Regions from separate parts of the Homo sapiens genome. Here region 1 is linked to region 2. The links come from fine-mapping of genetic effects on plasma protein levels. A gene starts in region 2. The other region holds a variant in brackets. All regions are shown on one strand. Distances are from middle to middle.

Region 1 (16,077 bases), 25 kb before region 2:
CATAGTGAGACCCTCTCTCTACAAAAATTAAAAGAACAAAACAGGGCTGGGTGTAGTGGCTCATGCCTGTAATTGGCACTTTGGGGGGCCGAGTTGGGTGGATCACCTGAGGTCAGGAGTTCAAGACCAGCCTGGCCAACATGGTGAAACCCCTTCTCTACAAAAATACAAAAAAACAAAAACAAAAACAAAACTAGCCGGGCATGATGGCAGTCACCTGTAGTCCCAGCTACTTGGGAGGCTGAGGCAGGAGAATTGTTTGAATCCGGGAGGCGGTGGTTGCAGTGAGCCGAGATCGCACCATTGCACTCCAGCCTGGGCGACAGAGTGAGACTCCGTCTCAAAAAACAAAAAAACAAAACAGCTGGGCATGGCTGTGTGAACCCCACATATCTGAGATGGTCTCAGTTAATTTAGAAAATTTATTTTGCTAAGGTTGAGGATGCGCACCCGTGACACAGCCTCAGGAAGTCCTGACGACATGTGCCCAACGTGGTCAGGGCACAGCTTGGTTTTATACATCTTAGGGAGACATGAGAACCAATATATATAAGAAGTACATTGGTTCTGTCCAGAAACGTGGGGATAGCTCAAAGCAGGGAGAGGGCTTCCAGGTCACAGATAGGTAAGAGACAAATGGTTGCATTCTTTTGAGTTTATGGTAAGCCTTACCAAAAGAGGCAATCAGATACGCATCTATCTCCATGAGCAGAGGAATGACTTTGAATAGAATGGGAGGCAGGTTTGCCCTGAGCAGTTCCCAACTTGACTTTTCTCATTAGCTTAGTAATTTTGGGGCCCTAAGATTTTCCTTTCACATTTACCCCCTTTTCTTTTCTTTCTTTCTTTTTTTGAGAGAGTCTCACTCTGTCACCCAGGCTGGAGTGCAGTGGTGCAATCTCAGCTCACTGCATCCTCCGCGTCCTGGATTCAAGCAATTCTCCTGCCTCAGCCTCCCAAGTAGCTGGGATTACAGGCACCTGCCACCATGCCTGGCTAATTTTTGCATTTTCAGTAGAGATGGGATTTCACCATGTTGGCCAGGCTGGTCTTCAACTGACCTCAGGTGATCCACCTGCCTCAGCCTCCTGAAGTGCTGGGATTATGGGCATGAGCCACCATGCCTGGCCAGGATCAGCAATGTTTTATGTATGTATTTATTTATTTATTTATTTATTTTTTGAGATGGAGTCTTGCTCTGTCGCCCAGGCTGGAGTGCAATGGCGCGATCTCCGCTCACTGCAAGCTCTGCCTCCCGGGTTCACGCCATTCTCCTGCCGCAGCCTCCTGAGTAGCTGGGACTATAGGCGCCTGCCACCACGCCTGGCTAATTTTTTGTATTTTTAGTAGAGATGGGGTTTCACCGCGTTAGCCAGGATGGTCTCGATCTCCTGACCTCGTGATCCACCCTCCTCAGCCTCCCAGAGTGCTGGGATTATAGGTGTGAGCCACCGGCCCGGCCTCAGCAATATTTTAAACAAAAAGTCAAAAAGATTAGTTCAGTCCATGCAGTTAATTCCTGTTCTGCTTGATATTCATGAACATTTTAGCTCCCCATTAGTCCCAAAAGTTATTCCTCTATTCCAATGTCACAATCTCCAAAGTTATAAAAAAACCTGCATTCAAGAGCACCTGTAGAGTTTTATAGCTGATTATAAAACCACCTTCTAAAGAGGACCAAAACATTACAATTGTCCCTAGAAGACAAAAAGTTTTAGGGCAGCCATAGTCAAAGACACATTGACAAGGAAATTTGTTACTTCTGTGGTACACAATAATTTTAACATAATGATTTTGATTATTACTGATAATGTACACCAAGTCATATCAGAATTACAGGAGTTTCCCATAATTTTGGAACACATACCAATATCATATTTATACAAATACAGTCCAAAGAAAACCAAACACCATTTTATATTTGACAATGCTTCTTGTATCATTTTTGTAACAAATAAACCAAATTATGTCATTTTTAGAATTTAGGGAAACTAATATCTTAAAGGAATAATTAGGTCAGAAAAAGACATAATTTATCATTTGATTTTGGAAAGTTTGTCAAATATCAAAGCTTTACAACACTTGATATCAAAATAGGATCACAGGTCATTGTAAAATAAGTCATACATTTAACCAAAGTGATAACTGAAGGATTAAAAAAAAAAAAAAAGGTAAAAACCTTCATTCTTTGAGAGGGGAGACAATTTTCCAAATGATAAGCCTTAATAAAAACAGCATGAAGCCAATTAAATTTGGTTTTCAAAATTTTATAAACCATCTATAAAATTTTAATCTTGACCATAAAATATAACTTCCATGAGCCTTTTACAACCTTTATAACATTTATTGAGGAGTCAGTTAATGCTTCAAGAAAACCTTGTTAATCTGACACAGGGGCCCATATGCTAGTCTTGCATCAGTGTGTCTTTGACATTCATGATTAATTTATAGAGAAACTGAACTTGTTTTATCTTTCAAAAGCAGCCCTTACAATCTCATGTGCCCACCTCTTCTGCAATAGCCTCTGGACCTGAGGAGTTGAATAGCTTTAATTTCTGGACTTGGTGTCTGTTTTTTTTTTTTTTTTGAGATGGAGTTTCCCTCTTGTTGCCCAGGATGGAGTGCAATGGCACATCTCGGCTCACTGCAACCTCTGCCTCACAGGTTCAAGTGATTTTCCTGCTTCAGCCTCCTGAGTAGCTGGAATTACAGGCATGTGCCACCATGCCTAGCTAATTTTCTATTTTTAGTAGAGACAGGGTTCCTCCATGTTGGTCAGGCTGGTCTCGAACTCCTGACCTCAGGTGATCCACTCGCCTCGGCCTCCCAAAATGCTGGGATTACAGGTGTGAGCCACCATGTCTGGCCGCTTTTTTTCTTGATATTTGTTAGCAAAAATTACTGGAAGCAGTTTCAGTTCAGCCAGCAAAGCCAGAAATAAACCTTCACTGTCCTACCTTAGAGGTATATCAACTCTCCAGCTCATTTTTTTTTTTTTTGAGACAGGGTCTTGCTCTGTCACTCAGGCCGGAGTACAATCATGGTTCTCCATGACTGGAGTGATACAATCATGGTTCTCCATGACTGGAGTGATACAATCATGGTTCACTGTAGTCTTGACCTCCTGGGCTCAAGTGATCCTCCCACCTCAGCCTCTTGAGTAACTGGGACTATAGACATACACTACCATGCACCACCACACCTGGCTAATTTTTATTTTTGTAGAGATGGGGTCTCATTATATTGCCCAGTCTGGTCTTGAACTCCTGGGCTCAAGTGATCCTCCTGGCTCAGACTCCCAAAGTGCTAGGAGTATAGGCATAAGCCACCATGCCTGTCCAACTCCCCAGCTCTATGTCATAATTTAGTTTTCTGGGATCTTGATTACCTTTCCCTTCCACAAGATATCACATTGATTGCCAATTGCAATCACCATTACACTGATGACATTATGCTGATCAGACCTAGTGAACAAGAAGTGGCAACTATTCTAGACCAAGAAGTGGCAACTATTCTAGACCAAGAAGTGGCAACTATTCTAGACCAAGAAGTGGCAACTATTCTAGACTTTTTTTTTTTTTTTGAGATGGTGGCTCGCTTTGTCGCCCAGGCTGGAGTGCAGTGGTGCGATCTTGGCTCACTGCAACCTCCGCTCCCGGGTTCAAGCGATTCTTCTGCCTCAGCCTCCTGAGTAACTGGGACTACAGGCGCCCGCCACCACGCCCGGCTAATTTTTGTATTTTTAGTAGAGATGGGGTTTCACCATATTGGCCAGCCTGATCTTGAACTCCTGACCTTGTGGTCTGCCCACCTTGGCCTCCCAAAGTGCTGGGATTACAGGCGTGAGCCACCACGCCCAGCCTATTCTAGACTTATTCATAAGAAATTTGTGTATCAGAGAGTGGGAAATAAATCTGACAAAAAATTAAGGATCTCTACTTTAGTGAAATTTGTAGGGGTCCAATGGTGTGGGTCATGTTGAGAGATCCCTTCTATAGTGAAGGATAAGTTGTTGCATCTGGCCCCTCCAACAACCAAGAGAGGCACAACACCTAGTGATCTTTGGATCTTGGAGATAACATATTCCTCATTTGGGTGTGTCACTCCAGCCCATTTACTGAGTGACCCAAAAAGCTGCTAGCTTTTAGGGGAGCCCAGAACAAGAGAAGGCTTTGCAACAGGTCCAGGCTGCTGTGCAAGCTGCTGTATCACTTGGGCCGTGTGATCTAGCAGACCCAGTGATGCTTGAAGTGTCAGTGGAGAAAGGGATATTGTTTGGAGCCTTTGGCAGGCCCCTATAGGTGAATCTCAATGCAAATCGTTAGGATTTGGAGCAAAGCCCTGCCAGCCTTGGTGGATAATTACTCTGCTTTTTTTTTTTTTTTTTTTTTTTTGAGACAGAGTCTCACTGTGTCCTCCAGGCTAGAGTGCAGTGGTGTGATCATAGTTCACTGCAGCCTCAACCTCCCAAGGTATAGGTGATCCTCCTGCCTCAGCCCCCCATTGAGGAGCTGGGACTACAGGCGTGCACTATCATGCTAAGTTAATTTTTTTTTTTTTTTTTTTTTTTTTTTTAGTAGAGATGGGGTTTTGCCATGTTGCCCAGGCTGGTCTTGAACTCCTGGGCTCAAATAATCCACCTGCCTCATCCATCCAAAGTGCTGGGATTGCAGGCATGAGCCACTGCACCCAGCCTACTCTGCTTTTAAGACACGACTCTTACTGAATTTATTTATTTATTTATTTATTTAATTTTATTTTTATTTTAAGACGGAGTCTCGCTCTATCACCCAGGCTGGAGTGCAGTGGTGCGATCTTGGCTCACTGCAAGCTCTGCTTCTTGGGTTCATGCCATTCTCCTGCCTCAGCCTCCCAAGTAGCTGGGACTACAGGCGCCCGCCACCACGCCCAGCTAATTTTTTTTTTTTTTTTGTATTTTCAGTAGAGATGAGGTTTCACCGTGTTAGCCAGGATGGTCTCGATCTCCTGACCTTGTGATCCGCCCACCTCGGCCTCCCAAAGTGCTGGGATTACAGGCGTGAGCCACCGCACCCGGCCTCTTACTGAATTTAAACTGCAGGAAAAAAAAAAAGAAAAAGAAACAGCTCTCAGCCTGATACTGAGTCTCCATAGAGACTGAACACTTACCCATGGGCCGCCAAGTTACTATGCAACCTGAGCTGCCCATCATGAGCTGAGTGTTGCCTGACCCACCAAACCATAAAGTTGGGCATACACAGCAGAACTCCATCATCAAATGGAAGTGGTATATACTTCAGTTGGGCTGAGCAGGCTATGAAGGCACAAGTAAGTTACATGAAGAAGTGGCAGGCCGGGCGCGGTGGCTCACGCCTGTAATCCCAGCATTTTGGGAGGCCGAGGTGGGTGGATCACCTGAGGTTGGGAGTTAGAGACCAGCCTGACCAACATGGAGAAACCCCATCTCTACTAAAAATACAAAATTAGCCGGGCGTGGTGGCGCATGCCTGTAATCCCAGCTACTCGAGAGACTGAGGCAGGAGAATCGCTTGAACCCGGGAGGCGGAGGTTTTGGTGAGCCGAGATCGCACCATTGCACCCCAGCCTGGGGAACAAGAGTGAAACTCTGTCTCAAAAAAAAAAAAAAAGAAGTGGCCCAAATGTCCACTGTCGCGCCTCCTGTTGTCACGGGATCCTTGGGGTGTCACTTTGCCCACTGGAAACCTCTGTGGCTGGTGGTGCCTTCTGCCCGAGTACTGCTCATGCCCACTGGGCTTGTTCTGCCCACTTGGCCTGGCAGGTTGTGGTCAGCTCACACTACTGGCCCGGATCCCACACCTGCCAAGGGTGAGCCAGGTGCAGAGTGGCAAGGGGTATGTGAGCGAGTGAGTGTGGGGTCTAGCCACTGCACACAGTCAGGCATGCAGGTTGCTGCGGCAGGGCAGGTGGCAGCTTTAGATGCTGGCTCCATGCAAGGCTGCAGCTGGACCAGCTATACCACACGTGTCTGGACAAGGGGAACATGGTGGTGCCCAGAAGCTTGGAGACGCCAGGAACCGTAGAGCCCCAAAGAGGGTGTCACAGCCCTGGCTCATGGAGCCCCTAGGTCTGGGCTCCCTGGAGGGCCCCACAGCTCTTCTCTCCTTCTTGTCACCCACAATGTGGCAAGCAGGGGACCATGTTTCAGGCCTCTTTGTGTTACAGCCCTTTCAGTCCCACCATTCAGCAGGTCCTGAGTTCTTGTCCCGCATCCAGGAAAAATGAGGTATGCAGACAACTGGAGGGTGAGCAAGGTGGAGAGGAGCTTCATTGAGTGATAGAACAGCTCTCAGGAGACCTGTAGTGGGTAGCTCCTTTCCACAGGTGGGTGGGTCATCCTGATGAGTGTCCAGCTCTCAGTGGAGAGGAGACCCATGGTGGGTAGCTCCTTTCTGCAGGTAGGTTGGCCCAATGGCTGTCCAGCTCTCAGCAGAAAGGAGACCTGTAGTGGGTAGCCCCTTTCTGCAACTGGTAGTCCCAACACCTATTCACATCTGGCTGAGTCCAGGTTTTATGGGCTCAGAAGGGAGGAAATATGTGCTGATTTGTCCATGGGTGGCTATGGGTGGGCCTGGAAAAAGCACCATAAGTTCTCACTCCAGGGCATGGACTCCACCCAGAACTGGCAGCCTGGCTTCAGGACATCCCTGGCCTGAAGGTGGGGTTTCATCAGAGACCCACCCCTTTTCACCCAGGAGCCTGTCTGCCTCCTGCCACCATCAACGTGCCACCCAGGCTATTTGTACCAAGGGGTGCCCGGAGGCCTGTACCGAGCTTCCCTTGGCGCCCCCACCTTGGTCTCCCTCCTGTGCTCACTGGTGCCCAAAAGTCTGGAGAGAACTGAAGCAGGAGGGGCTGGCACGTTGGTGGTGCCCTGATCATGTGCACACCCACAGGGTTGTGACAACACCAGGCTCAGCTTCAACTTTGCTCCAAAATTGGAGCGTGTGCTGGGAGAGGGGAGAGGCCAGGGAGCAAGAGCAGACACTTCTGAGCCTGAAGGAGCATAGTGGCTTCCTGGCCCACTGAGAGGACAGGGATGCCCTGGTCCAGAGCCATGGCTGGGTGGCTGTAGCTGCACCCAGGAGTCCAGGGCTCCTGCCCTGCCAACTCAGTAGGGGGCGGGGCTCCTGCATGTTTCTAGCCCCCACTGGCTTCACAGTGTGCGCAGCCCTGGACTCACCTTTCCCACTGCAGCTAGCATTCCCACAGTGGCTGCTCCAGACAGGCCAATGCCACCATCACTGCTACACTACATTTGTCTCCTAGATTGCCCCTGTGACTTAATGGGGAGTTGCCTGTGATCAGTTGACAGAAGGGAAGACTTAGGCCTGGTTCTGCATGAACATATGCACCACCCAAGAGTGCTGCAGCACTACAGCCCCTTTCTGTGACATCCCTGAAGGACAGTGATGAAGGAAAGCACTCTCAGTGGACATAACTTATATTTTTAAATTTTTTATTAAGAGACAAGGTCTCCAGTCTCTTTGGTCTAGCCTGCAGAAGTGAGATGATGAAGGGAACGTCATTGTTTTGAAAGCATTGCAATAAGACACACATGTTGTGCCACTGCCATGGCTCTAAGGCCTAGCACCTTCAGAAGTCTACTTGTGACAACTATGACTACCCTGCCAAGTGCAAGAGAAAGTGTAACTGGAGTGCAAAGGCTAAAAGACAAAATACCACCAGGACTGATTGCATGAAGCACCTGAAAATTGTATACCACAGATTCAAGCATGGATTCTGTGGAGGAACACCACCTAAACCCAAGAGAGCAGCTATTGCAGCAACTAGTTTATCTGAAGAATTTCAATGATTTTTCACTATTATTGTCACTATTATTATTTGTCAATAAATGCCATGGTTTAACAAAATCTAAAAAAGAAATAAAAAGAGATGGGATCTCACTTTGTTACATGACCAACAGGTTCATATGCCTCCTGCACAGTAATAGACCAATTACAGTGAGACAGCAGGGATGCAGAAGAGAAAACATTTAATTATCATGGGCAGCCAGATGCGGAGCTGGGAGGAGATTCTCAACTTCATGTCCTCTAGGAGTTCTGAGCTGGGGTTTTTAAGGGGATTGTGGAGGATGAGAGGCTGGAGAATTGGGATCGTTGATTGGGCAGCACAAGAGAGATAAAATAATCAGGACGTGGAAACTGCATTCTTTGGTGAGTCAGCTCCTCATGGGGTCCTTCAGACCAGCTGGTGTCGGTGGGGTCCTTTAGACCAGCTAGTGTCAGTGGGTCCCTTCAGATCAGCTGGCATTATGGGGTTCTTCAGATTAGTTGAGTCAGTGGGGTCCTTCAGATCAGCTGGTATCAATTGGGTCTTTCAGACCAGCTGAGTCAGACCAGCTGGGGTCCTTCAGATCAGCTGGTGTCAGTGGGGTCCTTTAGATCAGCTGCTGTCAGTTGGGTCCTTCAGACCAGCTCAGTTACTGGGGTCTATTAGACCAGTCAAGTCAGTGGGGTTCTTCAGATCAGCTGGTGTCTGTGGGGTCCTTCAGATCAGCTGGAGTCAGTGGAGTCCTTCAGATCAGCTGGAGTCAGAGGAGTCCTTCAGATCAGCTGAGTCAGTGGGATCTTTCAGACTAGCTGAGTCAGTGGGATCGTTCCAATCAACTGGTGTCAGTGGGGTTCTTCAGATCAGCTGAAGTCAGTGGCGTCCTTCAGATCAGCTGGTATCAATTGGGTCCTTCAGATCAGCTAAGTCAGTGGGGTTCTTCAGATCAGCTAAGTCAGTGGGGTTCTTCAGATCAGCTGAGTCAGTGGGTCCCTTCAGACTAGCTTAGTCGGTGGGATCTTTCAGATCAGTTGGTGTCAGTGGGGTCCTTCAGATCAGCTGGTGTCAGTGGGATCCTTCAGATCAGCTAGTATCAGTAGGGTCCTTCAGATCCACTGGAGTCAGTGGGTCCTTTAGACCAGTTGAATGAATGGCATTCTTCAGACCAGTTGAGTTAGTGGGACCCTTCAGACCAAGTTAGTCAGTGGAATCTTTCAGATCAGCTGGTGGCCATGGGGTTCTCAGCTGAATAGTTTCCTCAGAATGCAGGACCTGAAGGACCATCTCAAAGGGAATTTTTTTTATTTTTTTAATTTTTTTAATTTTAGAGACAAGGTCTCACTATATTGTTCAGGCTGGTCTCAAAGTCCAGGGCTCAAGCAATCCTTCCACCTCAGCCTCCCAAAGTGCTAGGATGACAGGCACAAACCGCCTCACCTAGCTCAAAGGGAAATCTTAATGTTTCATAATATTTAGGTGTTATCTATAGGATAGTTTAGGGGAATAATTTAAGGTCTACATGATTTTAGGACAATAGGCACCAAACAACCATGAAGAAGCAGATCAGGGAGCAGGCTGACCTATTGATCAATGCTGAGTGTGCTGCAAGCTGGGTTAATTTTCATTTATCCCCTATCTTCTTCCTTGGTTACTTTTATAAAATTTATAGGGTCAGTGTCAGCTATGTTCGTAGGGTGGTCTTGAGCTCCTGGGCTCAAGCAATCCTCTGCCTCACCGTTCTGAGTTGCTGGGATTACAGGCTTGCACCATGCACGTGGCCCAGTGGGCAGAAGTTTAAGCAGTTTAAGTCCGTTCACTTTTCTTGAAAAGATAGACACCAGATGTGCAAGTATATTCTGATTCATGTTCTGTGGTCA[A/G]TGGTTTGGATGGATGATCAGGGACTTGGAAGGAACATGATTGGATAATTGGTGACAAGGAAATTTGGGGAAGAGGTATATGGATAGACATCTTGAATGGGAAAATAAAGATATTTGTGTCCCATGTGAATGCTTACTAGAGGGTAATCTCAGAAGTTATCTATTAAAATAATAAATTGATTGGATAACCCATTCTGTAGATACCAGTTAGCCTTATTCTCTAGGAACCCCTGCCGTTGCCCAGTGGGCTCATGAATAAAGTGGCCATGGTGGCCAGGATGGACATTATGCATGGGCTTAGTAACATGGACTTCCACTCACCAAGGCTGACCTGGCTACAGCCACTGCTGAATGCCCTATCTGCCAGCAGCAGAGACCAACACAGAGTCCCTGATATGGCCTCATTTCCCAGCATGATCAGCCAGCTACCTGATGGCAGATTGATTACATTAGACTATTTTCATCTTGGAAGAAGCAGTATTTTGTTCTCATTGGAACAGAAATTTACTCTGGATAACAATTTTCCATCCTTACATACACAGCTTCTGCCAAAATTACCATTTGTGGACTTATAGAATGCTTTATCCATTGTCATGATATTCCACTCAGCATTGCTTCTGATTTAGGAACTCACTTCTCAGCAAAAGAAGTGTAGCAGTGAGCCCATCCTCATGGAATTCACTGGTCTTACCATGTTTCATGAACCAATGGGCTTGATAAGATGATAGGATTATTTGAAGATGCAGTTACAGCACCAGCTAGATGGCAATATATTGCAGGGCTGCAGCAATATGTTCTCCAGGGGGCTAAATGTGCTCTGAATCAGCATCCATCATATGGTGCTGTTTCTCCCATAGCCAAGATTCACTGGTTCAGGAATCAAGGGGTGGAAAAGGGAGCAGCACCACTCACTATTATCTCTAGTGACCCACTAGCAGGATTTTTGCTTCCTGTTTCTGAAACCTTATGCTATGCCAGTCTACTGGTCTTAGTTCCAATGGGAATAATTCTCCCACCAAGAGACAGCAATGATTCAATTGAACTGGATCTTAAGACTGCCACCCAGTCACTTCACCCTCCTTATACCTCTGAATCAACAGGCAAAGAAGGGAATTACTGGGCTGGTTGGTGATTGATCCTGTCTACCAAGGGGAAATTGGACTGCCTCTTCACAATGAAGGTAAGGAGGAACATGCCTGGAATACAGGAGACCCCTGAGAGCATCTCTTAGTATTGTCATGCCTGTGATTAATGTCAATGGAAAACTACAACAGCCCAATCCAGGCAGGACTACTAATGGCCCAGTCCCTGCAGGAATGAAGGTTTGGTTCACTCTACCAGATAAAGAACCACAACCAGCTGAGTGAGGTGCTTGCTGAAGGCAAAGGACATACAGAATGGGTAGTGGAAAAAGGCAGTTATAAATATCAGCTATGACCACATGATCACTTACAGAAATGAAGACTGTAATTATCATAAGTACTTCTCGTTTTTTTAAAATTTATTTTTAATTTTTAAATTAATTGTTATTAATAGAAATGGTGTATCACCATTTTGCCCAGGCTGGTCTCGGATGTACTCTCCTTGTTTTGTAATGAATATATATAAAATATCCTTGTTTTCTTTCCTCTCTTACTTCCTGTTTTGTAACATAAAATGTATTGACTCTATATCATAGTATTTAACTATTTTAAATTTTACATCATAGTGTTTAAGTTATGAGATATCAAGGAGAAGAACAAACATTATTTAAGGACTTCGCCTTCTCTTCTGGGGAAGAGGTAGTGCCTTTTCAGTTGTATGTAGAATGATTGTATCACGTTGGGTGGAATTATGACCTTGTCATTGTTTTTATTTGGAGAATAAGAATGGTTTCAGAAGATACATTTGGGTGTCAAGTTGACAAGGGGTGGACTTGTGACAGTTAATTTTATGTGCCAATTTGACTGGGCCATGGAATGCCAAAATATTTGGTTAAACATTATTCTGGATATACCTGTGAAGGTGTTTTTGGATGAGATTAACATTTGAATTGGTAAACTAAGTAATGCCGATTGTCCTCCCCAGGGTGAGTGGGGCTCATCCAATCCATGGAAGGGCTGACTAGAGTAAAAGGCCAAGTAAGGGAAAATTTACACTCTGTCTTTGAGCTAAGATATTATTCTTCTGGTTTTGGACCCATAGAGTCAGAATAAAACTTATACCATTGGATCTCCTGGTTCTAAGGCTTTCAGACTCAGACTAGAGTCCGACATATACGAGAGGGTCTTAAAAAGTGTATGAAAAATGCATATTATGAAAAAAACTATGCATGGATTAAAAAAATTTTGGCCCCAAAATAAATTCTTACTAACTTTATTATAACATGTCTGAACAGGATCTAGTTTGAGGCACTAGGAAGGGTAAGAAATCAGTTTGAAAAGAGCCCCTTGCTCTGTGGCTGGGTAGTGCTGGAGGTTAGCTTCCTCTAGGCCACTGAGCTCTCACGTCACTGCAGAAGGCCTTATCTGCAGAGACTTCCCATGCCAAGCAGGCCTGCCCCGTCAGAGAGAATGGCAGAAAGCTCGTGTGTGTCCTGGGGAGATGGTCAGAGGGAGCCACCTTCCAGCTGAACCCCAATAAGTACTCGTAGCTCACGGTGTAAACGCCCTCCAGAGGTTGCAGCTGTATACCCAAAGGTCCCGGCCAGCCCCTGTGCGCCCCTGTGTTGACTGGGTTTGGGGAGGACACAGATGGGGGCGTAGGAGGTGTGTAGCCCTGACTCAGCTTCCTGGTTGCATCCTAGTCTAGTGTTGTTTGAAGTCACGTGGACGTGGCCTCCCCTTAGAGGCTGGTGAGGGCATTTGAGGGCAGTTGTGTGCTCCTGGCCTGGGGCTGTGCTTTTGTGGCTGTGTGTGTGTGTGTTGGCGGGGGAGGGAGGGAGGTGCCCTAGTTGTGCACGGTACTCTGCAGCCCAGCGCCCTGCCGAGGCTTCTGCTGAGAGGAGACAGCGTGCTGGCAGTCCTCAGAGCCCTCGCTTGCTCTTGGCACCTCCTCTGCCTGGGCTCCCACTTTGGCGGCATTTGAGGAGCCCTTCAGCCCACCACTGCACTGTGGGAGCCCCTTTCTGGGCTGGCCAAGGCTGGAGCCCACTCCCTCAGCTTGCAGGGAGGTGTGGAGGGAGAGGCGCGAGCCGGAACCCGGACTGCGTGCGGCGCTTGCGGGCCAGCTGGAGTTCCAGGTGGGCGTGGGCTTGGCGGGCCGGCACTTGGAGCAGCCGGCCAGCCCTGCCGGCCCCGCGCAATGACTTAGCACCCGGGCCAGTGGCTGCGGAGGGTGTACTGGGTCCCCCAGCAGTGCCAGCCCACCGGCGCTGCACTTGATTTCTCACCGAGCCTTAGCTGCCTTCCCGCGGGGCAGGGCTCGGGACCTGCAGCCTGCCATGCCTGAGCCTCCCACCCCCTCCATGGGCTCCTGTGCTGCCCGAGCCTCCCCGACGAGCGCCGCCCCCTGCTCCACGGCGCCCAGTCCCATCGACCACCCAAGGGCTGAGGAGTGCAAGCGCACTGCACGGGACTGGCAGGCAGCTTCACCTGCAGCCCCGGTGCGGGATCTACTAGGTGAAGCCAGCTGGGCTCCTGAGTCTGGTGGGGACGTGGAGAGCCTTTATGTCTAGCTCAGGGATTGTAAATACACCAATCAGCACCCTGTGTTTAGCTCAAGGTTTGTGAGTGCACCAATCGACACTGTGTATCTAGCTGCTCTGGTGGGGCCTTGGAGAACCTTTATGTCTAGCTCGGGGATTGTAAATACACCAATCGGCACTGTGTATCTAGCTCAAGGTTTGTAAACACACCAATCAGCACCCTGTGTTTAGCTCAAGGTTTGTGAATGCACCAATCGACACTCTCTATCTAGCTGCTCTGGTGGGGCCTTGGAGAACCTGTGTGTCGAAACTCTGCATCTAACTAATCTGATGGGGACGTGGAGAACCTTCATATCTAGCTCAGGGATTGTAAACGCACCAATCAGCGCCCTGACAAAACAGGCCACTCGGCTCTACCAATCAGCAGGATGTGGGTGGGGCCAGATAAGAGAATAAAAGCAGGCTGCCCAAACCAGTATGGACAACCCGCTCGGGTTCCTTTCCGCGCTGTGAAAGCTTTGTTCTTTAGCTCTTCGCAATAAATTTTGTTACTGTTTGGGTCCACGCTGTTTTTATGAGCTGTAACACTCACCGCAAAGATCCGTAGCTTCAGTCCTGAGCCCAGCCAGACCACGAGCCCATAGGGAAAAACGAGTAATTACAGACGGGCTGTCTTAAGAGCTGTGACACTCACCGCGAAGGTCTGCAGCTTCACTCCTGAGCCAGCGAGACCACGAACCCACCAAGAGGAAAAAACTCCGAACACATCTGAACATCTGAAGGGACAGACTCCAGACGCACCACCTTAAAAGCTGTAACACTCACCGCGACGGTCTGCGGCTTCATTCTTGAAGTTAGTGAGACCAAAAATTCACCAATTCCGGAAACACTGCGAGGCAGCAGCGTGTCTTACACAGACGGAACCGCCGTTCCCCTGCCATGTTCAGGCGGGTCGGCAGGCTTTGTTCGTTATTCTGAGTGGCAGTCGGGAAGGGCAGCTGAACCCCGCCCGGGGATCTAGAGTTGCTGGTCAGGAACTGGAGAGAGGCCTGGCGGGCCTGGTTGTGTTTGTATTTGGGCTTTCTCTGGGGCCGTGGAGTGATAGGAAAGGTTGGCGTTTCCCTTGGAGATGCACCTTTTCTAGTGATTGTGTTTGCAGGGTGAGTCTGACCCGCTGAGCCACAATGAGCAAGGACAAGGAATATTTTTCAATTAACTTCTTAATTCTCGTGAGTGTGGCTTATGATCTCCTTTGTGGTTTGTTGATTATAAGGCGCACCCTGACGTTAGAAATAATAAAATGAGTGTGCCTTAGCATCAGAGTGTCACCATCTGACGCTCTAGGACTGGGCAGAGCCCAGGTCCTCTTCTCTGGAGTACTCGGCTACCACCTTGCCGTGCAGGGGGCTCCCTCCCTCCCTTCACTGCACACTCTCGGTTACTTCTTTCTCAATTCCATCCGCACAGCTTCCTGCCTCAACCTTTTCTGCCTTCTGCAGGAGCAGATGTTCCCACAAGGAACACGGGAGGTGCCAAGGTTGGGTTTCCAGCATAAGGCTGAGCCTTCTGCCCTCGGTTTGACCCTGGGTGGCACTGTTAGCTGGAGGCCACGAGAGCTGCCTTGGACGTGTGGGGCCAGCGAGCAGCGGCCCCTCACTCGTGGAGCATTGTTGCAGCCGGGCAAGTCTGCCATTGCTCATCCTCTTAGTCTTGCTCCCAGCTGCGACTTGTTCTTACATGTTCTAGATGCAAGGCTTTTGTGTGTGTGTGGTTTGTAAATATTTTGTCCCAGTCCATCGCTTATCTTTTACATCCTCTTAAGGGGGGTTTTGCAGAGAAAAGGTTTTTTTCTTTTCAAATTTGGTGAAGTCTGATTTATCAATTTTCCTTTTTAAGGATCTGATTTTGGTGTCATGGTTAAGAATTCCTCAATGACTCCCAGGTCCCAAAGATTTTTCCTACCTTTTCTTTGCTCTTTCTTTCTTTCCTTTCTTTTTCTTTCTTTTTTTTTTTAGATGGAGTCTTGCTCTTGTTGCCCAGGCTGGAGTGCAATGGCGTGATCTTGACTCCCTGCAATCTCTGCCTCCCTGGTTCAAGCAATTCTGCCTCAGGCTCCGGAGTAGCTGAGATTACAGGTGTGCACCACCACACCCGGCCCAGGCTGCAGTGCAGTGGCACGATCTCGGCTCACTGCAAGCCCTGCCTCCCAGGTTCACGCCATTCTCCTGCCTCAGCCTCCTGAGTAGCTGGGACTACAGGCGCCCGCCACCACACCCGGCTAATTTTTTTGTATTTTTAGTAGAGACAGGGTTTCACCGTGTTAGCCAGGATGGTCTTGATCTCCTGACCTCGTGATCTGCCTGCCTCGGCCTCCCAAAGTGCTGGGATTACAGGCGTTGAGCCACCGCACCTGGCTTCTCTGTTTGGTTTTCTATAACATTATTCTTTTTTTTTTATAGAGACAGTGTCTCATTATGTTGCTCAGGTTGGTCTTGAATTCCTGGTCTCAAGCCATCCTCCTGCCTCAGCCTCCCAAAGTGCTGGGATTACAGGCGTGACCCACTGCACCTGGCCAGCATTCTTTTTTTTTTTTTTAAACTGTTGAACACTCTGTAATTATTAGGTAAAATTAATAGTACTTCACAATTATATATATCACTTTACAGTTTACAAAGTTACTAAGTAGACATTTGTTTTGATGCCCCAAAATAAAATTTAACTTCTTTGTCCTCCCTTCTCCCCTCCATCAAGGAAAGACTAAGGAAC
Region 2 (14,291 bases):
CTTTTTTTAAAGTTCTTTGGCTGTGTGTGTCTTCTTTTGAAAAGTTTCTGTTCATGTCCCTTTGCCCACTTTTTAATGGAGTTGTGTTTATTGCTTGTAAATTTAAGTTCCTTATAGATGTTGGATATTAGAACTTTGTCAGATGCATGGTTTGCAAAATTTTTGTCCCATTCTTTAGATTATGTGTTTACCCTATTGATGTTGTCTTTTGCTGTATAGAAGCTCTTAAGTTTAATTAGATCCCATTTGTCAATTTTTGCTTTTGTTGTGATTGCCTTTGGCATCTTTGTCATGAAATTTTTCCCAGTTCATGTGTCCAGAATGGTATTGCCTAGGTTGTCTTCCAGGGTTTGTACAGTTTTGGGTTTTACATTTAAGTCTTTAATCCATCTTGAGTTGATTTTCGTAAATGGTGTGAGGAAGGGGTCCAGTTTTAATCTTCTTCATATGGCTAGCTAGTTATCCCAGCACCATTTATTGAATAGGGAGTTATTTTGCCATTCTTGATTTTGTCAGCTTTGTCCAAGATCAGATGGTTGTAGGTTTGCATCCTTATTTCTGGGCTCTCCTTATATTCTGTTCCATTGGTCTATGTGACTGTTTTTGTAGCAGTACCATGCTGCTTTGGTTACTGTAGCCCTGTAGTATAGTTTGAAGTTGGGTAACATGGTGCCTCCAGCTTTGTTCTTTTTGCTTAGGATTGCCTTGGCTATTTGGGCTTGTTTTTGGGTCCATATGAATTTTAAAATAGTTTTTTCTAACTCTGTGAAGAATGTCATTGGTAGTTTGGCAGGAATAGCATTGAATCTGTAAATTGGTTTGGGCAGTATTGGCCATTTTAATGATATTGATTCTTTCTATCCACAAGAATGGAATGATTTTCAATTTGTCTGTGTCATCTCTGATTTTTTAGAGCAGTATTTTATAATACTCATTGAAGAGATCTTTCACCTTCCTGGTTAGCTGTATATATTCCTAGGTATTATGTTCTTTTTGTGGCAATTATGAATGGGATTGCATTCCTGATTTGGTTCTCAGCTAGGTTGTTGTTTTTGTATAGGAATGCTGGTGATTTTTATATGTTGATTGTGTATCCTGAAACTTTGCTGAAGTTATTTATAAGCTTAAGGGGTTTTGGGCCAAGACTATGGGGTTTTCTAGATATAGAATCATATCATCTGCAAACAGGGATAGTTTGACTTCCTCTCTTCCTATTTGGTTGGCCTTTCTTTCTTTCTCTTCCCTGATTGCTCTGGCCAGTACTTCCAATACTATGTTGAATAGGAATGGTGATAGAGGGCATCCTTGTCTTGTGCTGGTTTTTAAGGGGAATGCTTCCAACTTTTGCCCATTCAGTATGCTGTTGATTGTAGGTTTGTCATAGGTGACTAATTATTTTGAGGTATGTTCCTTCAATACCTAGTTTATTGAGAGATTTTTTTTTAACATGAAGTGATGTTGAATTTTATCAAAAGCCTTTTCTACATCTTTTGAGATAATCGTGTGGTTTTTGTCTTTAGTTCTATTTATGTGATGAATCACATTTATTGATTTGTGTATGTTGAACCAACCTTGCATCCCAGGGATAAAGCCCACTTAATCATGGTGGATAAGCTTTTTGATGTGCTGCTGGATTCAGTTTGCAAGTATTTTGTTGAGGATTTTGCATTGATATTCATCAAGGATATTGGCCTGAAGTTTTCCTTTTTTTCTTGTGTCTCTGTCAGGTTTTGGTATCAGGATGATGCTGATTGCATAGAATGAGTTGGGGAGGAGTCCCTCCTCCTCAGTTTTTTGGGTTAGTTTCAGTAGGAATGGTACTAGCTTGTCTTCATACATCTGGTATAAACTGGCAATAAATCCATCTGGACCTGAGCTTTTTTGTAGTTGGTAGGCTATTTATTACTGATTCAATTTTGGAGCTCATTATTGGCCTGTTCAGGCAGTTTGTTCCTGGTTTAGTCTTGGGAGGGTGTATGTGTCCAGGAATTTATTAATCTCTTCTAGGTTTTCTAGTTTGTGTGTATAGAGATATTGGTAGTAGTTTTTTGCTGGTTGTTTGTATTTCTGCGGTGTCAATGGTAACATCCCCTTTGTTATTTCTAATTGTGTTTATTTGAATCTTCTCTCTTTTCTTCTTTATTAGTAGCCTATCTATCTTATTAACTTTAAAAAAAAAACCCTCCTGGATGCGTTGATCTTTGAATGGTTTTTTGTATCTCAATCTCCTTCAGTTAAGCTCGATTTTGGTTATTTCTTGTCCTCTGCTAGCTTTGGGGTTGGTTTGCTCTTTTCTAGTTCTTTTGGTTGTGATGCTAGGTTGTTAATTTGAGATCTTTCTAACATTTTGTTGTGGGCATTTAGTGTTGTAAGTTTCCCTCTTAACACTGCCTTACCTGTGTCCCAGAGATGCTGGTATGTGGTATCTTTGTTCTCATTTGTTTTAAAGAACTTCTTAACATCTCCCTTAATTTTATTATTTATTTACCCAAAAGTCATTCAGGAGCAGGTTGTTTGATTCCATGGTTTTGAGTGATTTTTTAAAGTCTTGGTTTCTATTTTTATTGCATTGTGGTCTGACAGTGTGTTTGTTATGATTTCAGTTTTTTGCCATTTGCTGAGAATTGTTTTGTGTCTGATTGTGTGGTCAATTTTAGAGTATGTGCTATGTGGCAATGAGAAGAATGCATAGTCTGTTGTTTTCGGGTGGAGAGTTCTGTAGATCTCTATCATATCCATGTGGTCCAATGCTGAGTTCAGGTCCTGAATATCTTTGTTAATTTCTTGCCTTGATGATCTGTCTAATACTGTCAGTGGAGTGTTGAAGCCTCCAACTATTATTGTGTGGGAGTCTAAGTCTCTTTGTAGGTCTCTAAGAACTCGCTTTATGAATCTGAGTGCTCCTGTGTTGGGTGCATTTATATTTAGGATAGTTATATCTTCTGGTTGAATTTAACACTTTACCATTATGTAATGCCCCGGTCTTTTTTGATTGTTGTTGGTTTAAAGTATATTTTGTCTGAAATTAGAATTACAATCCCTGATTTTTTTCTGATTTCCATTTGCTTGATAGATTTTTCTGCATCCCTTTATTTCAAGCCTATAGGTGTCATTGTGTGTGAGATGGATCTCTTGAAGACAGCATGAGATCTTGCTTTTTTATCCAGCTTGTCACTTTGTGCCTTTTAAATGGGGGTATTTAGCCCATTTACATTTAAGGTTATTATTGATATGTGTGGATTTGATCCTGTGTTGTTAGCTGGTTATTATGCTGGTTTATTTGTGTGGTTGCTTTATAGTGTCACTAGTCTGTATACTTAAGTGTCTTTTTGTATTGGCTGGTAATGGCCTTTCCTTTGCATATTTAGTGCTCCCTTCAGGACCTCTTGTAAGGCAGGTCTGATGGTAACAAACTCTCAGCATTTGCTGATCTGAAAAGGATCTTATTTATCCTTTGCTTAGGAAGCTTAGTTTGGCTGGATATGAAATTCTTGGTTGAAGATTTTTTTTCTTTAAGAATGTTGAGGCCGGGCGCAGTGGCTTGTGCCTGTAATCCCAGCACTTTGGGAGGCCGAGGCGGGCAGATCACGAGGTCAGGAGATCAAGACCATCCTGGCTAACATGGTGAAACCCCGTCTCTACTAAAAATACAAAAAATTAGCCGGGCGTAGTGGTGGGCGCCTGTAGTCCCAGCTACTCGGGAGGCTGAGGCAGGAGAATGGCATGAACCCGGGAGGCGGAGCTTGCAGTGAGCCGAGATCGCGCCACTGCACTCCAACCTGGGCGACAGAGCCAGACTCCGTCTCAAAAAAAAAAAAAAAAAAAAAAAAAAAGAATGTTGAATACACGCCTCCAATCTCTTCTGGCTTGTAGGGTTTCTGCTGAAATCTATTAGCTTGATGGGGCTCCCTCTGTAGGTGACCTGCCCTTTCTCTCTAGCTGCCTTTAACATTCTTTCATTTTGACCTTGGAAAATCTGATGATTATATGTCTTGGGGATGATCTCGTTGTGTAGAATATTGCAGGGGTTCTCTGTATTTCCTGAATTTGACTGTTGACCTCTCTAGGGAGGTCGGGGAAATTTTCATGGACAATATCCTGAAATATGTTTTCCAAGTTGTTCACTTTCTCCCCATCCCTTTCGGGGATGCCAGTGATTTGTAGATTTGGCCTCTTTACATAATCCCATATTTCTCAGGAGTTTTGTCATTCCTTTTCCTTCTTTTTTCTTTATTTTTGTCTGGCTATCTTATTTCAGAGTGCCAATTTTTAAGTTCTGCGATTTTTTCCTCAGCTTGGTCTCTTCTGCTGTTAATACTTGTTATTGCATTGTGAAATTCTTTTATTTTTTATTTTATTTTGTTTTTGAGACAAAATCTCACTCTGTTGTCCAGACTGGAGTACAGTGGCATGATCTTGGCTCACTGCAGCCTCTACCTCCCAGGTTCAAATGATTGGCATGTCTCAGCCACTTGAGTAGCTGGGATTACAGGCGTATGCCACCATGCCCAGCTAATTTTTGCAGTTTTAGTAGAAAAAGCGTTTCACTATTTGGCCAGGCTGGTCTTGAACTCCTGGCCTCAAGTGGTCCACCTGCATCAGCCTCCCAAAGTGCTGGGATTACAGGCATGAGCCACTGTGCCCGGCTGCATTGTAAAATTCTTGTAGTGTGTTTTTCAGCTCTATCAGATCAGTTAGGTTCTCTTTTTTACTGGTTATTTCATCTGTCAGGTCCTGCATCATTTTATTGTGATTCTTAGTTTCCTTGGATTGGGTTTTGCCATTCTCCTGAATCTCAATGATCTTCATTCCTATCCATATTCCGAATTCTATTTCTGTCATTTCAGCCAACTCAGCCTCATTAAGAACCCTTGTTGGAGAACTAGTGAGGTTGTTTGGTGGACATAGGACAGTCTGGCCATTGGAGTTGCTGGAGTTCCTGCATTGGTTCTTTCTTTTCTCTGTGCGTGGGTGCTCCTTTAACTGTTGGGCTGCCTCTGATTAAAGGGGCCAGGTAAGGGCGTGGTGGTTGTGCTGGAATCCCAGGCCAGACAGCCCTTCCCAATGAGCAGAAGGTACATGCATTGGCATTCATCAAGAAAACAACTCGACCCACAGAGAACAGAGAAAACAAGACAGGATGACCACCCACCCGGGAGTGACACCTAGTAACAACCTCAGTTCAAAAGTCTGCTGAGGGTGCTGCCTTCAGCTGAAATGAACATGAGGGTGTGGGGAAAGCCCTCCTTAGGAAGAAGGCTTTTTAGGTCTTAGTGAGTCCAAAAAAGAGGAGTGGCAGAAGTCATAAAAGAGGCACACGATGGAAATGTCTGTCCTTTTTAATATCATGGAGGCTGCTAGAGTTCTAACTAGGGAGAGCTCACCAACTAACAAGGCACTGAAGAGCCCACAGCTTGGGGCTCATGGGGACAAGGTCAGGAGATGGTGGGAGGGGATGCAAATTTAGAAGTTCCACCTACGAGGATCCCGATATGGCAAGTACAAAATGCCCAATTAACCTTTTTCTACATGTTTTCTTCCAATGGTGTTTAAGTTCACAGGACATAGACTTTTTTTTTTGACAGGGTCTCACTCTATTGCCCAGGCTGGAGTGCAGTGGTGTGATCACAGCTCATTGCAGCCTTGACCTCCAGGGCTCAAGTGATCCTCCCACCTCAGCCTCCTGAGTAGCTGGGACTACAGACATGCTCTAGCATGCCTGGCATTCTTTCTTTTTTTTGTGGAGATAGGGTCTCACCATGTTGCCCAGGCTGATCTCAAACTCCTGAACTCAAGCAACCCTCCTGCTTTGGCCTCCTAAAGTATTGGTATTACAGGTGTGAGCCACCACACCTGGCCCACAGGACATGGATTCTGAACAACTGGCATAAATCGACTGGCCTCAAGGTAAGGTTTTAAACTAAGCTTAAGCTTTTCTGTTGCCCTCAGATACCACTGAATTTCTTCTTCAGATTTTGGTGACATTAAGTGGTGGTTTCTGGAAATACAATTTTAATTTTGCTTGGGATGATTGTCTTGGGGTCTGGGGATAGCTCATTTTCTAAATTTTGTGGTTGTGGGGCTGGTGTTGCAATATTCTTGTGTCTCATTAACTTTCTGGAATTTTAAAAACAGACTCATGGAAGGTTTGCCTCAGAACTCAGTCTTTGAAGCCTTGGAGGAACTAACCTGTTCCAGCCCAGGCCGCAGCTTCGGAAGGGACCACAGCTCTGCCCAGGGATTGGAAACCCACTAGCTGGGATTAAACAGAACACAAATTGGAACTGATAGTTTTGTGACTTTAACATAGACACTTTGGGCTTCAATTACTTTTGACTTTAATGTCATAGTTTCAGTTTGCAATGGGATTTGAACTTTAATTTTGGAGTTTGATTAATGGGAGGGTTATTTGTTGTTCAAATTTGAAAATGGGAGGGTTATTTGTTGTTCAAAACCTTTATTGTTGGCAATCCCTTGTTGGAGCTTCTTAATACCATCATTTAATCTCATTGTGGATCTCCGATAGCTACTTAGATAACATGGCTGCATGAAATTTTATTTTATTTATTTTTGAGACAGGGTCTCACTCTGTTGCCCAGGCTGGAGTGCAGTGGTGTGATCATAGCTCATTGCAGCCTCAAAATCCTGGGCTCAAGTTATCCTCCTCCCTTGGCCTCCTGAGTAGCTGGGACTACAAGTGCGTGCCACTATGCCTGACTAATTTTTTGACTTTTTGTAGAGATGAAATCTTGCTATGTTCCCCAGGCTGGTCTTGAACTCCTGGCATCAAGTGATCCTCTCTTTTTGGTCTACCAAAGTGCTGGGATTACAGCACTTTGGCATGAGCCACTATGCCTGACCAATGAAATTTGAGGTGGGAAACGGAGCACCCAGGCTGAAGTGCAATGCTGTGGTCATAGCTCACTGCAGGCTTGAACTCCTGGGCTCAAGCAATCCTCCTGCCTCTCAGCCTCCTGAGTAGCTGGGACCACAGGATGGCTAATTTTTAAACTTTTTTGTAGAGATGAGGTCTCCCTATGTTGCCTAGGCTGGTCTTGAACTCCCAGCCTCAAGCGATCCTCCCGCCTCAGCCTTCTGAGTTGCTGGGATTACAGGTGTGAGCCACTGCTCCTGGCAATGTATTTCAATTTCGTGGCAAAATTGCAGAAATGAACATAAAACACAGGTGAGGATAGGAGAGTCTAACTTTTCTGGCAAGATCGGGCAGTGTTGAGCTCCAAGGAAAAGGAGAAGGAACCCTGGACACATTGATAAGGCGTCCTCTTTTCCTTGGTATTAACTGAAGCATGCTCTTGATGGGGAGGAAGCTGCTGCTACTGCTGCCGTGTTTGGTGTTTGGAGAAGTTAATATGGTTTGTTATTTGTTAAAAGCTTACTGAGTACCAGGTATATGCTGAATGCTTAGCATACGTTATTTTGTTTAATCTTGGCCACAATGGGCCCTGACAGTGATAGCTGTGTCTGAAGTAGGTGCTATTATTCCCATTTTACACCTGATAAAGCTGGAGCTCAGAGAGGCATAGTAACTTTTTCAAGGTCACACGGCTAAAATGAAAGGTAATGAATGGTTTGAATTCACTTTGGCACATTCAATCAACCAATCCTCAGATACTCACTGAGCGTGTTGTATCAGCCATTATTTTTAGTTGCAAGCAGTAGAAACCAACTCTGGCTGAGTTTAGCAGAAGATGAATTTATTAAAGGGACCCTGGATTGCTCATGGAAATTCCAGGGGAGCTACAGAGCCATTGTGGAAGCTTCCCAGCAGGGACAATGGTCAGAACCTGGCTGCCGCTGCTGCCACTTCTTTGACCATGGCCTGGATGCTTCGGCTTGCAATGCTTACCCACTGGGGCTGGATGCTGGGTGCTGCTGAGAACTCTACCTCCTCTGTGATCTTGCTGTGGCCACCACTGTCCCTACAGGCTCTAGGGTCCCTGCTTCCTGGCATTACTGGCTCTGGATTGAAAGCCTGGGCCTCTGATGAATGGAACGTGTGTGCATGTGAAACTGCCTTTGCAAAGATGATGACAGTGAGGGAAGTCTAGCATGGGTGACTCCATCTTGCCTCTACCCTCACAGGCTGGCTGTCCTCACTCATTCCTGGGCATAGGCCAAGCTAACCATGGGAGGAATTTAGTTTACAGTTTAACTCTGAAGCAAAGATGATATTAGTCCCTCCCTAAAATGAACCCCCTCCTAGCTCAGGGACCTGCCTTTGTAAAACTAATGAAAGGCCACAAGATTAGGATTATGGGAGGGGCTTGAATTTTGCTAAGATGTGGGTGTAGCTAACCGATGACCAGCCATTGACCCCTAGCTTGCCTTTCTATAATCCTTTGCTGCTCAGGAGTCATGCGGCCAGAGGTCACAAGATCTGTGACTTCCCCAATTGCTCCTATAGATAACATCACTATTGTAAAACCAAATATTGGTCTTCTGAGATATTTTTCAGACTTTTGCATTCTGAAATGATTCATGACTCAACTGGTCCTGTGACCCCCACCCAGAGGTGGACTTAGTGCACAAGGTCTGTTTTCTACACTCCTATGATTTTATCCCCAACGAATCAGTAGCACCCATTCTCTGCTCTTACCGCCCACCAAATTCTCCTTAAGAACCCTAGCCTCTGAGTTCTTGTGGGGACTGATTTGAGAAATAAACTCCCATCCTTTCACTTGGCTAGCTCTGTGTTGTTAAACTCTTTCTCTACTGCAATACCATGGTCTCAGTGAATTGGTTTTGTCTACGCAGCAGGCAGGAAGAACCCTTCGGGTGATTACAAATTAGCCTGCTCCAGAGCTGCTGGAGGTGGGGGTGACACACTTCTTGTGCCTGTGTCTTCTTTCTTGGGAGGTCGGCTCTGTTCCCAAGACTGATATCATGGGGAACTCCTCTAATGTGGCAAAGCAGTTTGAATGCTGGGCAGCCAGGGGAGTCACAGATGGTTGCATACACATCTGTGTTCTGCATGACACTGCTAGACATGGCGGACAATACCAAGACGGATCAGACCCAGCACCTGTCTTCCGAGACCTTACGGGCTCATGATTCTCTTCCTTTTAACATGCACATTTATTAGGTACCATAGTGTGCAAAGCTTGTTCACTCGAATTATTTCATTAGGTCCATCTGATAGTCATGTAGGGTAGGCAGAACTGATAGGATTTCTGTTTTATATTTGAAGAAACTAGGTCTGTCAATAGTGAGCCAGGTTTAAAAAAAAAAAGAAACTAGGAAGTTAGGTGATGAGCCTAAGACATCACCACTGGTGAGGAGCAGAGCTGGGACATGAGCCTATCTTCTGACTCCAGGCCCAGTGCTAAGCCAACTAAAGGGGCATAAAGGGGAGCTGAGATCAGGGAAGGCTCTGTGGAGTGGCACTGCCCCTCAGTCCCTTGTCTGCAATTCTAAAATCCAAAGGACTCTGAAAACAAAGTCTCTGTCTTTTTTTTGTAATGGGATCTCATTCTGTTGCCCAGGCTGGAGTGCAGTGGTGCCCTCTGCAGCCTCGACCTCCCTGGCACAAGTGATCCTCTTGCCTCAGCCTCCTGAGTAGCTGGGACTACAGGCGTGTGTCACAATACCTGGCTATTGTTTTTTGTTTGTTTGTTTTCAAGTTTGGGACTAAAACTCAATTTGGCAGCAAAACCTGACCCGAACTGATGTGATTTGTAATCTTTAGTTATCCATTTACCGTAAGATCAATGTGTTTAGCTGCAGAAATCTTAATGTTTGTTAATAGGGGGTTATCCTGGTCCATAAAGGGAGGGAGAGGAGGAGGTGTTACCTAATATTGGGTCCATGGACTACATAGCCTAAAAAAATCTATAAAATTTCAAAACACACCTGGCTTCAAGGGTTATGGATAAGGGAGTCTGGGTTGGATCTGAAAGGGGGCTTGGTTGTGGGGTAGAATTTCGATGTTTGGAAGGGATGTGGAGGGATGTTATGAAGAGGAAGCCTCACGCCATACCACCTTGGGTCTTGGTGTTAAGTCATTATCAACCATTACATTTGCTTTAAAGCAGAGATGACTTACATTTCTGATAACTACTTTCCCTTAATTCATGATTCACACACATTTGGAGGGCTGGACTTTCTGGGTTTGGTTATTTCCCCTGGTACCAATCCCCGCCTTTTCCCAGAAATCACTTGACTTTCCCGAAAACTCAGAAACACACCCTTTGGCTGAAAAATAGCATTAAGCAATCGGTGAAATTCCCCATTCCTCCTTTCCCCGCTGGAGCCCTGGATAGAGGGCTCTCTGGCCTGGGAGGAGGACGCTGTCCTTGTTTCAAAAGCAGAGGGAGCTCCAAGATCAAGGCTGAGTTTCCCTAAGTCATGGTCTCCCAGCCCCCTCTGTTTAGATCAGGGAATTTCAGACATGCACACTCGGGTAGGGAATCTTATGAACAGAACCAGGACAGGGAGGCTGGCCGGAGGTTCCTGCAGAGGGAGCGTCAAGGCCCTGTGCTGCTGTCCCTGGGGGCCAGAGGGGTTGCCCAGCATGCCCACTGGCAGGAGAGAGGGAACTGACCCACTTGCTCCTACCAGCTTCTGAAGGTAAAATCCTTACAAACGAGGAGCAGAGCTTTGATGGAGGAAAAAGGAAAGGCAGAAAACTTCACGTAGGAGGGCTTGGGGCAATGATAGAGGGCTGACAAAGGCAGCATAAAAAAAGGCAGAATATAGACAACCTATTTCTCTTAGGCTCACCCCATCCACCCCTACTTCACCCCCTTACCTACCACTGTTTTCAGGGTTAAAGCAATTTTAGCAACCCTTTACTAGGAACTGTGGGGAGATAGCTTGTATTTTCAGTAAGTTGGCGGTGGGGGGCAGGGACAAACTCCAAACAAACTCTGGAAAACGAATGTAGGAAGTTTTTATGTTCCTTGTCATTTGGCTGTCCCTTTTCTCCTTCCTCGCACAACCCTGTATCAGTGGGGCAGCACTTCCTTCTCAGACCGCTTGTCCCAGGGTCCCTGCCTTCCCCTAGTGAAAGAAGCTCCTGCCTCCATCGGTGGGCGTTGGGAGCATCAGCGGAGATGCACGCAATGATAAACAGCAGACAGGGCTGCTTGAGGAGATGAGGTGATCACGGTTAAAGAAGAGGGGCTGTCCTACATGGATGATCATGATGCGCCAAGACTGTTGAAAACCTGAGTGGAAATGGGAGCATCGTTCTTGAGGGCAGGAGAGAGACTGATACCGCGGGGGTGGGGCTGGTGGAGGACAATAGAGGAAGAAGAAAACTGGGAGAAAGTACTCGATTCCTTTGGAGAAAAATTAGGAGAAAGTCTAGAGAAGCAATGAGGGAAGGATACAATTTAGCTATAGTCTAGAAAGTTAGTCGAAGTTAACTAGGGAGGGTGTGAGGGGCACGGTGCCATGTGGGGATGTTGGTGATATGGCCCTGTGTGTTATACCTTTGAAGGTGACACTGAGCCCCAGGTGACGCCGCACCACCAAAGAAGGTGCTTGTGTTTGTCAGACAAATACAGCCAGGCCTGCCACCCCTTAGGCTCCAAAGTCCGGAGGTGCAGAAAGCCAGGACCAAGAGACAGGCAGCTCACCAGGGTGGACAAATCGCCAGAGATGTGGTAAGTGATCAAGGGTCCCTGAGATGACACAGACTCCATTCCCTTCATCTTCTCAAGAAAAGCGCTCAAGGGCCAGGCATGATGGCTCACACCTGTAACCCCAGCACTTTGGGAGGCTGAGGCGGGAGGATTGCTTGAGCCCAGGACTTTGAGACCAGCCTGGGCAACATAAGGAGACCCTGTCTCTATTAAAAAAAAAAAAAATTAGCCCAGCGTCATGCGTGTCACCTGTGGTCCCTGCTACTCAAAAGGCTGAGGTGGTAGAATCACTTGAGCGCGGGAGGTCAAGGCTGCAGTGACCTGAGATCGCACCACTGCACTCCAGCCTGGGTGACAGAGTGAGAACCTGTCTCAAAAAAAAAAAAAAAAGGGCTCTTGTCTGAAGCCTGGGTTTTGGTTTGACCTGGGCCTTTTCTTTATTCCGACCTAAGATTCTCCCCCATGGCCGATTGACTGCCTCTCTTCTTCCCCCTTTCTTCTGCCTCTGGCAAATAGCGCGTTCTGTCCTAGGCTACTGGTGCCTGGTCACCCGCCAATCTATGCCTCTGTTTTTTCAGGTGCATTGTCCTGTTTTCACTTTTGGCATGGGTTTATGCTGAGCCTACCATGTATGGGGAGATCCTGTCCCCTAACTATCCTCAGGCATATCCCAGTGAGGTAGAGAAATCTTGGGACATAGAAGTTCCTGAAGGGTATGGGATTCACCTCTACTTCACCCATCTGGACATTGAGCTGTCAGAGAACTGTGCGTATGACTCAGTGCAGGTATGTTATAAGCACAAAAAGAATAGAGATGGAAGACTAGGGCTAAGGTAGCGGAATAAGGATGTGGGAGGGAGTGCCACCTGTACTCACAGTGAACTGGAGTCAAGTCCTAGTGGCATAAATGTTCTATTCTCTCTGTCCCTTCTTTTAACTCCATACCAAAATATTACCCTTTCCTAGATTTTTTTTTTGTGACTCTTCTCTTAGATAATCTCAGGAGACACTGAAGAAGGGAGGCTCTGTGGACAGAGGAGCAGTAACAATCCCCACTCTCCAATTGTGGAAGAGTTCCAAGTCCCATACAACAAACTCCAGGTGATCTTTAAGTCAGACTTTTCCAATGAAGAGCGTTTTACGGGGTTTGCTGCATACTATGTTGCCACAGGTAAGGCTCACCCTTCTGCATGTGCCTTATTGACCCAGCTAAAAGATTAGAAATGAGAAATCCACTGAGCAACACATTGAATGAGGATTCTGTTCGTAATTCTTATAAAAAGTGTTGACTTGGCCTGGGTCGCTCCATAAATCACTTTTGTGAAATTCAAATGCATGATCATATCTTAGTGGTGATGATGATCATGGTAATAACACATAGTACATAATAAACAGCAATTTGTTGAGAGCCACTATAAACTGGGTATGTATTGGGGATTGGGGATTTTTCCTATTTTAACACAATCGTCACTTTAATCCTTCAAGGTAGGTATTATTTGCTCCATATAAAGATGAAGAAAATAAGGACTAGGAAAGTTAATAACTTGCCAAGAATCACACAAGGAATGTGTAGTATTTAAACCCATTCAATATATGGCATTCAAACCTTCAAATTCTGGGTACTTCTGTATCTCTCTCTAGGTTAAAATGAAGCTAGGACATCTCATAAAGCCAAACTATTGTTTAGATTTGACAGAAGGACCAACATCATATAAAGCAATGAATGTACTGATTCCTCCCTGCAGAAGGCATCGTCATGATGTTTACCTTGCAGAGTGTCATTCCTGGAGCTGAAATGCTCTGTACATGAGAAAAGTCAAGGATCTCTGACATTAAGAGCTGCCTAGGCCGGGCATGGTAGCTCACACCTGTAATCCCAGCACTTTGGGAGGCTGAGGCAGGTGGATTACCGGAGCCCAGGAGTTCAAGACCAGCCTGGCCAACATGGTGAAACCCTGTCTCTACTAAAAATATGAAAAATTAACCAGGCATAGTGGTGGTGCGTGCTTGTGTTCCCAGCTCCTCGGGAGGTAGAGGCGTGAGACTTGTTTGAACTTGCTTGAAAATGTGGAGGTTGCAGTGAGCCAAGATCCCACCACTGCACTCCAGCCTCGGTGACAGAGTGAGGCTATGTCACTTACACACACACACCCCCGAGCTTCCTTATAGCTGTGTAGTGGTAGGGCTCAACTCTGGAATCATATGTCAGGAGAGTAATATGGAATAATAGTAGCCTGAAATGTGATCCCTTGACGGATCTTTAAGCAATAGGCCTTTCCTACTTTTTCTTACCCTTATGGTTTTGGATTTAACCTCATTCTCCCTTCTTGGTGTTTGTTCTTGACCTCAGCCTCTTTCTACTCTTTGTAGACATAAATGAATGCACAGATTTTGTAGATGTCCCTTGTAGCCACTTCTGCAACAATTTCATTGGTGGTTACTTCTGCTCCTGCCCCCCGGAATATTTCCTCCATGATGACATGAAGAATTGCGGAGGTGAGCTTGGTGTTAAGAGGGTTGCATGTTCCCTGGGATTTGGAATGGCTGAGGCCTCAGAAAGGGCTTTGTCCACCCTTCCAACTTCGATTAGGCCAAGCCTTCATTTGGCACTTCTTTTTTATTTTAGAATTTATTTATTTATGTATTATTTTTAATAATTTCAATAGTTTTGGGGGTACTGGTGTT

Direction of the effects. Positions count from the first base shown, and alleles are read on the strand shown. Strength reflects both the effect of a copy and how common the allele is.
With allele G in place of A in region 1, the plasma level of the protein whose gene starts at base 10,428 in region 2 is lower (weak association).

What was found. PIP is the posterior inclusion probability: the model's chance that the variant is causal. The UK Biobank Pharma Proteomics Project read protein levels with antibody pairs (Olink). The fine-mapping took linkage between variants from a reference panel, not from the people measured, so its PIPs are less certain.
Region 1: its variant is fine-mapped to the plasma level of the C1S protein (UK Biobank, PIP above 0.99).

What each region holds. Positions count from the first base shown.
Region 1 is chr12:7,024,580-7,040,656 of GRCh38, forward strand. It overlaps the pseudogene RPL37P20. Among named protein-coding and RNA genes, the nearest start is that of LPCAT3, 14 kb to the left of the region's middle. The variant A/G (reference allele first, on the strand shown) is at 9,687.
Region 2 is chr12:7,050,291-7,064,581 of GRCh38, forward strand. It overlaps C1S (complement C1s), which reads left to right and starts at 10,428. Exons shown (of 12, transcript NM_001734.5): 1 at 10,428-10,587; 2 at 11,549-11,627; 3 at 12,185-12,392; 4 at 12,600-12,777; 5 at 13,977-14,102. The coding sequence starts at 11,623. RefSeq lists enhancers at 10,015-10,516, 10,517-11,016.